Linked DNA regions of Homo sapiens. Each later gene encodes a partner of the first gene's protein in a complex. Each region holds a gene or a part of one and is shown in the gene's direction. Other genes may lie near its edges.

The links.
Region 2: the proteins of PIGT (region 1) and PIGU are in contact, whole or in part, in a cryo-EM structure (PDB 8IMX), measured with the Homo sapiens proteins. Residues at the interface, in NP_057021.2 of Homo sapiens: Tyr361 (codon at 2,313), Gly362 (codon at 2,316), Leu363 (codon at 2,319), Gln364 (codon at 2,322), Lys365 (codon at 2,325), Arg394 (codon at 2,412), Leu395 (codon at 2,415), Tyr396 (codon at 2,418), Val397 (codon at 2,421), His398 (codon at 2,424), Tyr416 (codon at 5,110), Pro418 (codon at 5,116), Ala419 (codon at 5,119), Gln420 (codon at 5,122), Asp421 (codon at 5,125), Arg422 (codon at 5,128), Gln445 (codon at 5,197), Glu447 (codon at 5,203), Leu450 (codon at 5,212), Leu451 (codon at 5,215), Lys452 (codon at 5,218), Trp453 (codon at 5,221), Thr454 (codon at 5,224), Pro518 (codon at 6,524), Thr519 (codon at 6,527), Pro520 (codon at 6,530), Asp521 (codon at 6,533), Phe522 (codon at 6,536), Ser523 (codon at 6,539), Met524 (codon at 6,542); in NP_536724.1 of Homo sapiens: Glu30, Lys42, Arg43, Val45, Glu46, Ser49, Leu50, Leu53, Val55, Ser59, Gly60, Ala61, Val62, Pro265, Asp266, Leu267, Pro269, Leu273, Trp275, Tyr276, Phe277, Phe278, Ala279, Glu280, Met281, Phe282, Glu283, Phe289, Phe293, Asn296.

The regions. Positions count from the first base shown.
Region 1 is NC_000020.11:45,419,118-45,426,145, forward strand, and holds part of PIGT (GPI-anchor transamidase component PIGT isoform 1 precursor), read left to right. Parts: intron 1-177; coding exon 178-278; intron 279-355; exon of another isoform or gene 356-386; coding exon 387-473; intron 474-1,018; coding exon 1,019-1,106; intron 1,107-1,214; coding exon 1,215-1,312; intron 1,313-1,410; coding exon 1,411-1,576; intron 1,577-2,265; coding exon 2,266-2,466; intron 2,467-5,098; coding exon 5,099-5,264; intron 5,265-5,378; coding exon 5,379-5,462; intron 5,463-6,392; exon of another isoform or gene 6,393-6,456; coding exon 6,457-6,709; 3' UTR 6,710-7,028. UniProt on the Homo sapiens protein: Component of the glycosylphosphatidylinositol-anchor (GPI-anchor) transamidase (GPI-T) complex that catalyzes the formation of the linkage between a proprotein and a GPI-anchor and participates in GPI anchored protein biosynthesis.
Region 2 is NC_000020.11:34,562,083-34,569,110, reverse strand, and holds part of PIGU (GPI-anchor transamidase component PIGU), read left to right. Parts: intron 1-7,028. UniProt on the Homo sapiens protein: Component of the glycosylphosphatidylinositol-anchor (GPI-anchor) transamidase (GPI-T) complex that catalyzes the formation of the linkage between a proprotein and a GPI-anchor and participates in GPI anchored protein biosynthesis.

The DNA.
Region 1 (7,028 bases):
CCATCTCTGCATGCCTTTTCCCAAGGAGAGAAGGGAGTCCTACTCCCAGTTGGGACTGTCCAGACTGTGGTGCTAGAGGTGGTGTGGGGAGCAGGAGGGTCATTCCCATCTCTGGAATGTGGATCCCGAGGGGTCAGAGCCCAAGGCCCACCCCAGACAGACCTCTGTCTCCCTCAGACACTGACCACTACTTTCTGCGCTATGCTGTGCTGCCGCGGGAGGTGGTCTGCACCGAAAACCTCACCCCCTGGAAGAAGCTCTTGCCCTGTAGTTCCAAGGTGAGGCCGCAGAGCCTGGCAGCCGGGGGCGGGGGGTGTATAGAGAACCTGCGCCCCATGCCAAGTGCTCCATACAGGGCTTCTCTTATCTCTTTCCATCTCCTCCAGGCAGGCCTCTCTGTGCTGCTGAAGGCAGATCGCTTGTTCCACACCAGCTACCACTCCCAGGCAGTGCATATCCGCCCTGTTTGCAGAGTAAGTCATGGGGAGTAGAGGAAGCTGCCATCCAGGGGCTCAGAGAAGGTACATGTAAAGCATGTGGTCAGTGTCTGGCTCAGGCTGAGTGAGTACTGAGTGGTAGATGTGATGACGGTTATTCAGGGCATTGGCCAAGCACCAAGAAAACAGTGGTTGCCTAGCAAGCACTGAATAAATATTTGTCATGGAAAATAGTGGTTCAGAACAATAGCTATGCGGGTGCAATTGCTAGCTCAGTCACTTGCCAGCTGGCGTAACCTTGGGTGAATCATTTCATTCCCCTGAGCTTGGTTTCCCACCCTGCCACATGACATTGATAGTAGAATCCACTCCTAGGGTTGTTGTGATAGTTTATCAAACTGATGCACATACAGCTGTCAGCACGGGGTCTGGCACGAGGTCAAGTGCTCAGGAGTGGGTGGTAGCAAATCGATGGATGTGAAGATACATAGATGAGGGATTGAGTCTGAGTAGGAGTCTTTTTGGGGGCTGTGTGGTGAGAGTGATACCCCCTCACTGCTGCCATCTGGCCCTTGTGATAGAATGCACGCTGTACTAGCATCTCCTGGGAGCTGAGGCAGACCCTGTCAGTTGTATTTGATGCCTTCATCACGGGGCAGGGAAAGAAAGGTAAGTTACCTTGGCAACTCATCTGTACCCACCCATGCCAGCCCTGCCTTATCTATGTGGACTAGGCCTAGGCCTGGCCCCTGCTCAGCCCTGCGCTCTGTTTCTCAGACTGGTCCCTCTTCCGGATGTTCTCCCGAACCCTCACGGAGCCCTGCCCCCTGGCTTCAGAGAGCCGAGTCTATGTGGACATCACCACCTACAACCAGGTAACAAGGTCTCCAGCCACACACACAAACACACCGCTGGTCCCCAGGACCAGCCTACCCTCTCTGCTTGCTTCTTAGCCCTGCCTTTGTGTCCCCAGGACAACGAGACATTAGAGGTGCACCCACCCCCGACCACTACATATCAGGACGTCATCCTAGGCACTCGGAAGACCTATGCCATCTATGACTTGCTTGACACCGCCATGATCAACAACTCTCGAAACCTCAACATCCAGCTCAAGTGGAAGAGACCCCCAGAGAATGGTGAGTGGGTGGTTGGTTGGACTGCTGGGTTGCAACGGCTACAGAGAAAAGACTCACAATCCCACGTCTTTGCCGTTAGATGATTGGGTTGTATTTAGACCAGATTTCCAGAGTCATATGCTGCTGACTGTAGCTATTCCAAGCTCTACGATTTTGGGTAGGTTCCTAAACTCCCCAAGCTTCAGCATCCACATCTGAAAAATAGAGTATACTTAGCAAATTGGATGAGATGATGTGAAAAATGGAGTTAGTTCATGCATTTGCTTAATCAACCAAATACTTTTGAATTCATACTAAGTGCCAGGCATAGAGTGTTGAATAAGACAGAGGACACTGCACTCAAGAAATATAAGTCTACTAGCTAGGGCAGGTGTCAGTTAATTAATTACAGTTGTGTTCAGTTCCCTTACCAAGGGAAAGAGCAGAATATCCTGAGAGGACCTGGATTGGGTTCGAAGGGGGCACGGTGTTCGTCACGTAAGCACTTCAATACTAGCAACCTATTGTCATCATCGCTTGTTGGCTGGGGAAGACAGGGATGATTCCAGAACCCAGATTGCCCAGTTTCAGTGGCAGGGCTGTTCCCCATCTACTCACTGGCTTGGGACTCTGAACATGGCCTGGGCAGGTGGGGTGGGGAGTGATTCTTACCTTTGGCAGCTGTTAACTGTTGATATTTCTTTACACAGAGGCCCCCCCAGTGCCCTTCCTGCATGCCCAGCGGTACGTGAGTGGCTATGGGCTGCAGAAGGGGGAGCTGAGCACACTGCTGTACAACACCCACCCATACCGGGCCTTCCCGGTGCTGCTGCTGGACACCGTACCCTGGTATCTGCGGCTGTATGTGCACACCCTCACCATCACCTCCAAGGGCAAGGAGAACAAACCAAGTGAGGACCTGAGTCCTGAACCAGGCCCCCAGCCCGCCCTCTCATGTCCTCTCCAGGTCCCCCAAACTCTCATTTCCCAGGGTAGTTCCTGAAGTACCTCTGAAAAGCTACACAGGCATAAAGAGTAAGGAATAGTTTCTCAAAACTGGAACGGGAGCCTCACTGTGCCAGGTTCAGAAGTAATTTATAAAACAGCAATAATTAAAACACATAATACTGGTGATTCTTAATAGGACTGTACAAGGACAGTAGCTTCCTTTTTCACTTACTTTTGCCTCCTTTCTGGAGCATTGGGTTTTGTGATGATTCATAGACTCTTTAAGGTAGGGAAAGGGTTTGGCAACGTTAGGCTTTTGAAGCTAGGAAGATAGCAGAGCTGGAGTAGATGGTGTTTTGCTTCCTTGGGAGGGGTAAAGAGGTACAGTTAATTAAATTTTTTTATTTCTATTTTTATTAAAATTTATTTTTATTTTCTATTATTTTTCTAAGGAGAAGATAATATTAGTGCTTCCTATTAGGTGCCAGGCATAGCACTAAAGCACTTGCCTTTCTTTGGTGTAGGGGGAGACTAGTAGTAAAGTAAAAGACCTCTGAGGAAGAGGTTGTACCATATCCCAAACGGCCAAACTTAAAAACCTTTCAGTACTTTAGTTGATTCCTATATTTTCAAACATACGGTGAATAGTTTCACTTATTTTCAGCACCATTATTTGTACCACCTTCAAAATCTCTATTTCAGACATCCTAACTGCATATTCTATAGGTTTTTCTGTTATTATTCTTTTAAATCTTCTCCTTTGGAAAATTTCAAACCCAAACCCAAACAGAATAGTGTAATAATCCCCTGTACACACCCTGCAGCCTTTTTTTTTTTTTTTTAAGAGACAGACTGTTGCTCTGTCAGCTATGCCGGAGTGCAGTGGCATGATCATGGCTCATTGCAGTCTCAGACTGCTCGGCTCAAGCAATCCTCCTACCTCCGCTTCCCTAGGACTACAGGCATGAACCGCCATGCCTTTAATTTTTTCACAGAGGCAGGGTCTTGTTATGTTGCACAGGCTGGTCTCAAACTCCTGGCCTCAAGCGATTCTCCTGCCTCAGTCTCCTAAAGTGCTGGGATTATAGGTGTAAGCCGCTGCCTGCTGGCATATCTTAAAGCAAATCTTAGACATTGCATCAATTAACCTTTAAATACTTTAAGGATTTTTAAAAATGTAACCGTATCATTACCACTTCTGTTTTCCCCTGTGGTCTTAAAAATGTCTTTTTATAATTGGTTTGTTTAAATTGGGATAAACAAGGTTCTCACATTGCATTTGCTTTATACTAAGTTCCTCTCTTGGGTGGGCACAGTGGTGCACACCTGTAATCTCAGCACTTTGGGAGGCCAACACAGAAGGACCACTTGAGTCCAGGAGTTCGAAACCAGCCTGGACAACATTGTGAGGCTCCCCCTACCTATACAAAAAAAATTTTTTTTTTTTTTTTTTTTTTTTTTTGAGACGGATCCTCACTCTGTCACCCAGGCTGGAGTGCAGTGGCGCGATCTTAGCTCACTGCAACCTCCACCTCCCGGGTTCAAGCGATTCTCCTGCCTCCACCTCCCGAGTAGCTGGGACTACAGGCGCGTGCCACCACGCCTGGCTAATTTTTTCTGTTTTTAGTAGAGATGCGGTTTCACTGTGTTAGCCAGGGTGGTCTCGATCTTCTGACCTTGTGATCTGCCCGCCTTGGCCTCCCAAAGTGCTGGGATTAAAATAAATTGTTTTTAATTAGCTGGGGGTGGTGTTGCACGCCTGTAGTCCCAGCTACTCAAGAGGCTGAGGTGGGAGGATCACTTGAACCCAGGAGGTCAAGGCTATAGTGAGCCATGATCATACTATTGCACTTCAGCATGGGCGACAGTGTGAGACCCTGTCACGAAAAAAAAAAAAGTTTCTTTTTCTTTAAAATTACTAGACTATTCTTAGAGCAGTTTTAGGTTTACAGAAAAACTGAGCACAAAGCACAGAGTTCCCATATACTCCCTGTCTCCACACCCAGAATGTCCCTTATTATAAATGTCTTGTCTTTGGTGTGGTACTCTTCAGTCTCTCTTCATCTGTAGCAGTGCCCATGCCTTTTTTTTTTTTTTTTAATGTCATTTATTTGTTGAAGAAACTGGGTCATTTGTTGTGTAGAATGTTCCACATTCTGGGTTTGTCCTTGTGCTAGTGTTTAACACACCCCTCCTCTCCTATATTTCTTGTGTGTTGGTGGTTAGATTTAGAAACCTGATTAGATTCATGTCCCACATTTTTGGCAAGAAAAATTCCCAGGTGGTTCTGTGAACTTCTTCTTGCGTCACATCAGGCACTTGGTGTCTGGTGCCCCAGTTGTAGTGATGTGAAGATTGATTAGCCATCTGCAGCACTCCTAACAACCTCTCTTGATCGCATCCTGGGATCACTGCCCTGGAAACATCCTCTCCCTTTTCTTAGCCCCTGCTTTCTTCCCTTGCCTGCCTGGCTTCTATGCTCCCAAGCCCATCTTCTAGGCACCCAGATTGAGGCTCCATGGCAAGCAGCAGGGACAGGGGCAGCAGGTAGCCTGACCCCAGGAAAGAGATGTGGGTGACCTTGCATGTCTCCAGGTTACATCCACTACCAGCCTGCCCAGGACCGGCTGCAACCCCACCTCCTGGAGATGCTGATTCAGCTGCCGGCCAACTCAGTCACCAAGGTTTCCATCCAGTTTGAGCGGGCGCTGCTGAAGTGGACCGAGTACACGCCAGATCCTAACCATGGCTTCTATGTCAGGTGGGCTCCACCCCCACAGGCCACCTCTCATCCCCCTGACCTACCCTTTCTGCTGCTTACCCCTTGATAGGGCAGCCAGATGGGAACACGGGCCATCTCTCTGCTTCTCTGTAGCCCATCTGTCCTCAGCGCCCTTGTGCCCAGCATGGTAGCAGCCAAGCCAGTGGACTGGGAAGAGAGTCCCCTCTTCAACAGCCTGTAAGTGTGACCACACTCACTGATAACACATCCTCAGCTGCCTGCTGGGCCTTAACACAGGTGACCAGGCTCCTGCAGGGGAGTTCAGGGTAGATGTTACATCTTCCAAAGAGATGTGTAGATTTAATTCAATCCTAATAAAAATCCTGGCAGTCTGTGGAATTTGTGAAGACTTTATAAAATGATTTTAAAGTGCTTCTAGAAGAATACTTTTACTTACAGCCTACATTTACTTCTTGATGCTCTTAAATATTTAATCAAGCACTTATCAAATGCCAAGTGCTTCTGAGAGCACTGAGTGTGCAAGATTAAACAAAACAGACTTGGCCCTGGCCTCCCTTTGCTTACAGTCTAGAAGGAAGATTCTGGTCTAGAGAGTAATGGGGTTAGAGGTTGGGTAGGAATTGATTTACTGGGTTATCTAGGAAGGCTTCATTTAGGAGGTGGCATTTAGGCTGAAACCAGGCTAAGAAAGAAGCAACCAAGCAAAGGCGGGGCCCCTTTCCTCCACCTCAACACCAGGCGTCTCTCTTTCTTTCCTTTCTCTCTCTTTCTTTCTTTCTCTTTCTTTCTTTCTTTCTTTCTTTCTTTCTTTCTTTCTTTCTTTCTTTCTTTCTTTCTTTCTTTCTCTTTCTTTCTTTCTTATTTATTTTTTATTTTACTTTAAGTTCTGGGATACATGTGCAGAACATACAGGTTTGTTACATAGGTATATATGTGCCACGGTGGTTTGCCGTACCCATCAACCCATCATCTAGGTTTTAAGCCCCGCATGCATTAGGTATTTGTCCTAATGCTCTCCCTCCCCTTGCCCCCCGCCCGCCGCTCCCCTTTATCAGGTTTAGAGATTGAGCTATGCCTTCTGTTGAAAGGTTTTGAGCCTAAGAGAACATTGGAAACACTGTGTTGCATTGCCCAATACTGCCGGAATGAGGATGGGGTGAGATGGGGAGGAGCAGCCAGTCCTGTCTCACCGCTCTTCCCCTGACCCCAGGTTCCCAGTCTCTGATGGCTCTAACTACTTTGTGCGGCTCTACACGGAGCCGCTGCTGGTGAACCTGCCGACACCGGACTTCAGCATGCCCTACAACGTGATCTGCCTCACGTGCACTGTGGTGGCCGTGTGCTATGGCTCCTTCTACAATCTCCTCACCCGAACCTTCCACATCGAGGAGCCCCGCACAGGTGGCCTGGCCAAGCGGCTGGCCAACCTTATCCGGCGCGCCCGAGGTGTCCCCCCACTCTGATTCTTGCCCTTTCCAGCAGCTGCAGCTGCCGTTTCTCTCTGGGGAGGGGAGCCCAAGGGCTGTTTCTGCCACTTGCTCTCCTCAGAGTTGGCTTTTGAACCAAAGTGCCCTGGACCAGGTCAGGGCCTACAGCTGTGTTGTCCAGTACAGGAGCCACGAGCCAAATGTGGCATTTGAATTTGAATTAACTTAGAAATTCATTTCCTCACCTGTAGTGGCCACCTCTATATTGAGGTGCTCAATAAGCAAAAGTGGTCGGTGGCTGCTGTATTGGACAGCACAGAAAAAGATTTCCATCACCACAGAAAGGTCGGCTGGC
Region 2 (7,028 bases), about 11 Mb from region 1:
CACCTCAGCCTCCCAAGTAGCTAGAACTACAGGCACACCCCCACACCTGGCTACTTTTTAAATTTTTGGTAGAGACAGGGTCTTGCTATGTTGTTACGAGCTCGAACTCCTGAGCTCAAGCCAAACTCCTGCCTCAGCCTCCCAAAGTGCTGGGATTACAGGTGTCAGCTGCCGCACCTGGCCAACCACCCACCCTTCCAAGCAGGATCTGGATCATCTGGAACCCTACTCCTCAAGCCACTGCCTATTTGCCATGAGGGGCCAGCCCTGACCCCTCCCTGTACTGCAGACCCTCAGATACTGGGCTGGCCTTGCATTGGCCATTCTCCTTTCTGTTTTGAGTGAGGCCTGAAGCCCGAGGTCTGACACCAACCTCCTGCATGCTGCCTGTCCCCTGCCTGGGACTCACTGTTCACTGCAACACAGGTGAAACCACAATCCTGTCTCCCGGAGTTGCCTCTCAGTTGGCCTGGTGTGTCATTCTGGGAAATGGGACCTATGAGGAAATGCTTGGAGACGTGTTGGGTGGGTCATTAGTGGCTGAGTGGTGTGTAGCCCCCATTTGGGGTTGGCTCGAGACCCATTTCAGGTTTCTTCCTGCCGGTTGTGTGTGGCCTGGGCTGTGCAAGATCCCAGGTCTGTGTGTGGGAAGGCTCGTTGCTCCCGATATGCGGTGCCTGTGGCCAACCTGGAGCCCTTGTCCTCATCCTGCTGGATGTGCGTGTTTACTTTGCTTTTCCCAACTAGTGTAATTCTGTCAAGGTCTTAGTTCATTCCTTTGTCCTTCCAGCACTGAGCATCCCAAGCTTGTCCCTCACAGGCCCTTCCCAGCCTATTCTCCTCCCCAACAACCAGAGTGACAGGAAGAGCCCAGGCTACATACAGCAGGACAAAGGCCACAGAAGGCCAGGGCTCTGGAAGCCCAAACTCTATAGCGACTCCAGCCCTGTCTGTCCTGGCTCGCTGGCCTCAGGCACATCCCGTAACTCCTGGGAAGCTAATTTATTTATTTGCAAATGTTAATTAGGTTCCTACTATTCACCAGGCACTCTGCGAGGGGTGAATGAGACAGAGGTGTACTTCCAAGGAGCCCTCGGTCTGTGGAGAGAAAGGAAAAGACATGGGCAGGACAGGGCAGCCTGACGAGCTGGGAGCCCAGAGCTGGGCTGTTAAGGAGGCTTCCTGGGGAAGGTGGCCTCTAAGTGGGGTCCTGAGGGATGGGTAGGATCTAACTGGGTTCTATGATTTTAGGTAGCAAGACCTGGGTGGGGGTGAAGGAGGGAGAGAGAGAGAGAGAGAGAGAGAGAGGAGGAAGGAGGGAGCAAAGGAGGAACACCGTGCTGCTGGGAGCTCAGTGGGACTGGCTGTACCACTTGAGAGGGAATGAGGGCAATTCAGACAGCAGTGGTCAGACCACAGGCCTTCAAGGGCCTCTTATGCAGAGGTCCAGACTGCACCTTTGGCTTTAAGAGCTGAGGATAAATGTGATCAGATCCATGCTCTGAAAACCTCACTGCTGGGAAGAGCAGAGGTAAGAGGTGTGAGCCTGGCATCCAGGGCACCAGGGACGAGGCTAGGGGAGGTTGAAATCTGGGGGAGGTGGTGGTGGCCTCAGTTTCCTCAAACTGGGAAGGTGGTTTTGAGGACTGAATGTGGGAAAAGTGCCATGTAAGTGAAAAGTGCCATGTAAGGGACAGTTACTTGTAGCCTCATCCTCAGTCTCACCTTGTGACCTCTCAGACCCTGACACTGAGGTCCAGAGATTTCACTTGTTACTTTGCATCTTCAGAGCTGGAGGGTGGAGTTTTCTCCTCCACCATTTCCTCCTACATAATGTCCGCTCCGGCCTGTGGGTTGCCAGGTTACGCCAAAGTGCTGTCCAGCTCCACAGTCGGCCGCCAGCCTCCTCTGCCTCCCAGCTTCCTGGATCCCAGGCAGGTGGGCAGAGGCTGCTGCACTTTGCCAACTGTGACGGCCACATGCATTCCCCCCAGCGTGGGCTGACTGTCAAATGTCAGTGTCTGTGTCCCCAACAGCAGCAGGAGGCCTGGGGAACCAGGACATGCCTGGGTGATAGCACCTGCTTCTCTAGGAATCTGCAGCCCTGGTGGTGGACAAGGCTGCTGTCCTGAGCCCAGTAGTTTCAAGACACACTGTATTAACAACCTCTACTGGCTTTTTACAAAAAAAGTCAATCTCTCTCTCTCTCCACTGAGTGACAGAGCTGTGAACTGGGGAGAGCAGACTCCGCAGGGTGTAAAGGTACCTGAGGTGTCAGCACAGGCCTGGCATGTAGCAGGACTCAGTTCATGTGGGTGCAGACCCTAGGGGGTTGTGGAAGAACTCAGGATTGGGCCTCTGACAGGCAGGACTGGCCCCTAACTCTTCACTTCCTACCATGTGACCTTTTGCAGGGCCCATAACCCCTGAGCTTCCCTTCTCTAAGTAGGCATTGTCAGCCCTACCCTGGGGGGTTGGAAAGGGACAATATTGTTTTTTTGTTAAAGGGCCTGGACCAGGGCAGACACTCAGAAGATATTCATTTCCCTGTCTCTCCATCCTGCCCTGCACTAGAGCATGTTCTGAGGGTTTCGTTCTACTTCTGATTCATCCTGTCTGTCCCTGGTCACCCCTTTATCAGCTAGCTGCCCCATGAGCTCTTCATCATGGTCCCAGAGGGAGGCGGCCCTGGAGCCCTCATGGCTGCCATAGAGAGGAATGTGGACCGAGCCGTCCCTGGGGGCAGCGCTGAGAGGGTACAGACCAGCAAACAACTCAGAGAGAGCTGGCCCTGTGCCGGGCCTGGGGCCATAGAACTGGAGCAAATGCAGCCCCATTTGGTTGGGAGGCCAGTGGGCAGTGACTTCACTTCAGGGTCCATGTAACAATGCAGGGTTAGAGAAGACTCCTGGCAGGAGATGAGCCTCTGAGGGATAGGTGGGAGCTGCAGCGCTGCTGGGCAGGGCAGGGGGAGCCAGGGAACTTCTGAGCAGGCAAGCGTGCGTGTATGTGTGTGTATCTGTGTGTGTGTGAGTGCAGTGCGAGCATGTGAGCAGTGAGAGCGTGCGTGTATGTGTGTGCATCTGTGTGTGTGAGCATGTGTGTCTAAGCATTGCAAGCTTGCATGTATGTGTGCACCTGTGTGCGTGTATGTGTACCTGTGAGTGCAATGTGAGCGTGTCTGAGCAGTGCGAGCATGTGTGTGTGCAAGCATGTGTGTCTAAGCATTGCAAGCATGCGTGTATGTGTGCACCTGTGTGTGTGCACCTGTGTGTGAGTGCAGTGCGAGCCTGTGTGAGCAGTGCAAGCGTGCATGTATGTGTGTGCACCTGTGTGTGCATGTGTGAGCAGTGTGAGTGTGCGTGTGTGTGCACCTGTGTGTGTGTGTGTGTGTGTGTGTGTCCAGAGAGGTGGCTGCAGGAAGAGAAGAGGGCAAGTCTGAGAAGGGGATTGGCAAGGCAGTATTTCAGCCACATTGGGTGGGATCCAGAGACCTGAGGACACAGAGTGACATGTTCTGGGGTCCTAACTGGCACAAAGACTAGAGGAGCCCGGCCGGGCGCGGTGGCTCATGCCTGTAATACCAGCACTGGGAGGCTGAGGTGGGCGGATCATGAGGTCTGGAGATCGAGACCATCCTGGCTATCATGGTGAAACCCCGTCTCTACTAAAAATACAAAAAAAGAAAAAACTAGCCAGGGGTGGTGGCGCACGCTTGTAGTCCCAGCTTTCTCGGGAGGCTGAGGCGGGAGAATCACTTGAACCGCGGAGGTTGCAGTGAGCTGAGATCACACCATTGCACTCCAGCCTGGGTGACAGAGCGAGACTTCGTCTCAAAAAAAAACTAGAGGAGCCCAGCATTGTTGGTAACAAGCTAGAGCCTATTACTGTCATTTTCCAGATGAGGAAAATGCAGCCCAGGGGACAGGAAGAGACTTAATATCACACAGCCGCTGACTCGCCCATGCAAATTCCACAGCCCCTTGCCCAACTCGCCCCTGTCCAGACTGGGCAAAGGGGCTCTGGGTCTGCAGCTGCTGTGTTGGCTGCACCCTAGGGCCTCTGGGAAATCCCTGCTCTCCTCACGGCCCAAATGGAAAGCCCCAAGGTCAGAAGAGGTTGTCCTGGCTACAGGCTTCCCTCTGAAAGGGCCAGGCCTCTCGGCCAGCCTGGTGTCCTCTCCCTGGGGGCAGGGTGCTCACTCAGGACTGATGACACCCAGGGCTGTGTGCCCAAGCCGCTCACAGGGCTCTTCCCGCCACCCCCTTTATCCTCCAGATTTCCACACACACAGCAGAGTTGACAGCTTTAGCATTGGACACCCATATACATACCCACCAGCGGGAGTCCACCATTCACATCTTCAGGTACTTCTTCCATCATCCCTCAGTCCATCTTACTTTTTTAGTGTATTTCAAATTGAAATGCAGACATCAGTACATTTCCTGCTAAATATTTCAGCATGTGTATCATTTTCTTATGTAAAATTTATTATACAGGGAAAAGTGCAAATCTTTTGTGTACATTTGCCAAAGCTCTCTTTCACTCAGCAAAATATTTTGAGTTTGTTACATACAACAATAGGTCATTGCTGTTAATTTTTTTCCTGTTTCAAGAGCTGGAGTTTTGCTCTGTTGCCCAGGTCGACCTCCTGGGCTTAAGGGATCCCCTTGCCTCGGCTTCCCGAGTAGCTGGAATTACAGGCACAAGCCACCATTCCCAGCTAGTTCATTTATTTTTTAAATAAACTTTTTATTTTAGAATCACTTTAGATTTATAGAAAAGTTGCAGAGATAGAACAGAGTTCCTGTAAGCCCCCACCTAGTTGCCTAAGTTGTTAACATCTTATATTTTACCGTGATGTGTTTGTCAAAACTAAGACACTCACCCTGATACGTTACTATTAGTCTGAAACACTAGAATGGATTTGGATTTCCTGTTGTTCCAGTCACAGCCTCTTTCTCTACCAGGACCCCATCGAGAGGTCCACATTACATGTAAGGTCACATCTCCCCAGTGTCTTCTGCTTTTCTTCTTAGTCTTTTCTGACTTCTCATGACCTTGACAGTTGAGGAGCGCTGGCCAGGTATCTTGTAGAATGTCACCCAATTTAGGTTTGTCCCCCAGTTTAGGTTTGTCTGATGCTTTTCTTAGGACTATCCTGGGGTTGTGGGTTTTTAGAAAGAATACCCCAGGCAAAGTGCCCTTCTCATCACATCTATTGGGGTTACATGCTAGCCACGTGATTTCAAGCTGATGTTAACCTCCACCACGTGGTTAAGATAGTGTTGGCCAGGTCTCTCCACTGTAAAGTTACTCTTTTCCCTTTCCCTGCTCCTCAGGAGGAAGTGAGTAACCAAGTCTAGACCCCCCTAGGCTTAGGAGATGCAGAGTGGACAAGAATTAAGCTCCTTCTATGGGAGGGGGATATAACTACCTACATTGTTTGGAATTCTTCTGGAAGGAAGATTTATCTCCCCCCCCCCATTGATGTATTGATTCATTGATTTATTGGCTGATTTGTTTTAATTGAAGCTTTATTTTTTATTATTACTTTTTGAGACGCAGTTTCGCTCTTGTTGCCTAGGCTGGAGTGCAATGGCGCATCTCCGCCTCCCAGGTTCAAACCATTCTCCTGCCTTCAGCCTCCCAAGTAGCTGGGATTACAGGCATGCGCCACCATGCCCGGCTAATTTTGTATTTTTAGTAGAGACGGGGTTTCTCCATGTTGGTCAGGCTGGTCTCGAACTCCCAACCTCAGGTGATCCGCCTGCTTCGGCCTCCCAAAGTGCTGGGATTACAGGCATGAGCCACCGCACCTCGCCGAAGTTTTATTTTTATCAATGGAATACATGTATGTAGTTTGCAAAGTTAAGGCTTATAGGGGAAAAGAATAGCTACCTAAAGTCTTACTGTTATTTCTGTTGGTACTTCTAAATAACATGCTTACTTTTCCATGTGTACGTTTTTCCGTTTTATATTAGGTTGGATCATATGAAATTGCCAGTATTCAACCATTTTTTTATCTGCAAAACTGGCAATTTCATATGGTCCAACCTAATAACCTAATCTTTTTCTTCCTGCTTCTTGTCCAGATGATTATTGTGTGACATGGAGTTGCTTCGTTTTGATTGTTGTGGATTGTGACTGCACCTGCCCCTCAGCTGACCTGGTTCAGGGATCAGCCTCTGAGCTCAGCCCCTGCTTTGGGCTCCTCCTGCCCAGATGGCATCTCGGGCCTGGGTGAGAAAGGGCTGCAGGGTATGAGGTCAGCCTTTGCTGTGATCACTGCCCCCCAGTGGGCCAGCCTGGAGCTGCCAGCTGGGCAGCTGGGGGCAGGGCCTCGGGGGCTGCCTGAGCTCTGTCTGCTTTGCTGACGCTGTGACCAATCTCGTGCTCATCAGTGATCTGGGCCCCAGGCAGACCACCTTTCTGGGTCCATGGCCATTAGTCCAGTGCTCCAGGTGTAGCCTTAGGCCAACCATTGAACCCTTTGAGTCTCAGTTTCCCCATCTGTTTAAGATGAGGATTGTTCAACCTTCCAGATGGGCTTCTGTGGTGATAGAATGGCAGGTACTTGTCCTGAGGCCATCAGAGCTGCTGGTGACAGGACACCTTCCTGAACTCCTCCAGGCGCCTCTGATCTCTCCTTAGCTGCTGTTGTGTTACCTTCAGGTCAGTGAGAAGCTGCCCAGGACAGGGTCTGGAGGTCTAGATCCCAGGCTTAGCTCAACCTGTCTTGCCCCAAGACCATAGCCAAGTGCTCTGTGCCTCAGTCTCCCCATCTGTGCCAGGTGGTTGGTGCCAATCCTCTGAGGCCTCCAGGTGCCTGAGAGCTGCGGTGTCTGTAGTGTGAGCCCCTGTCCCCTCATCCTTCTCTGAGGCTGGGCCCTGCCCAACCTGCTCCAGGGACCAGTGGTCTTGGGAAGCTTGGGCTGACTGGGATTGCAGACTCCGGGTCTGGTGTATAGGGCCCTTGGCAAATCCCTATTCCTTTCTGGGCCTCCTTGAAGAGACAGTGGGCTGAG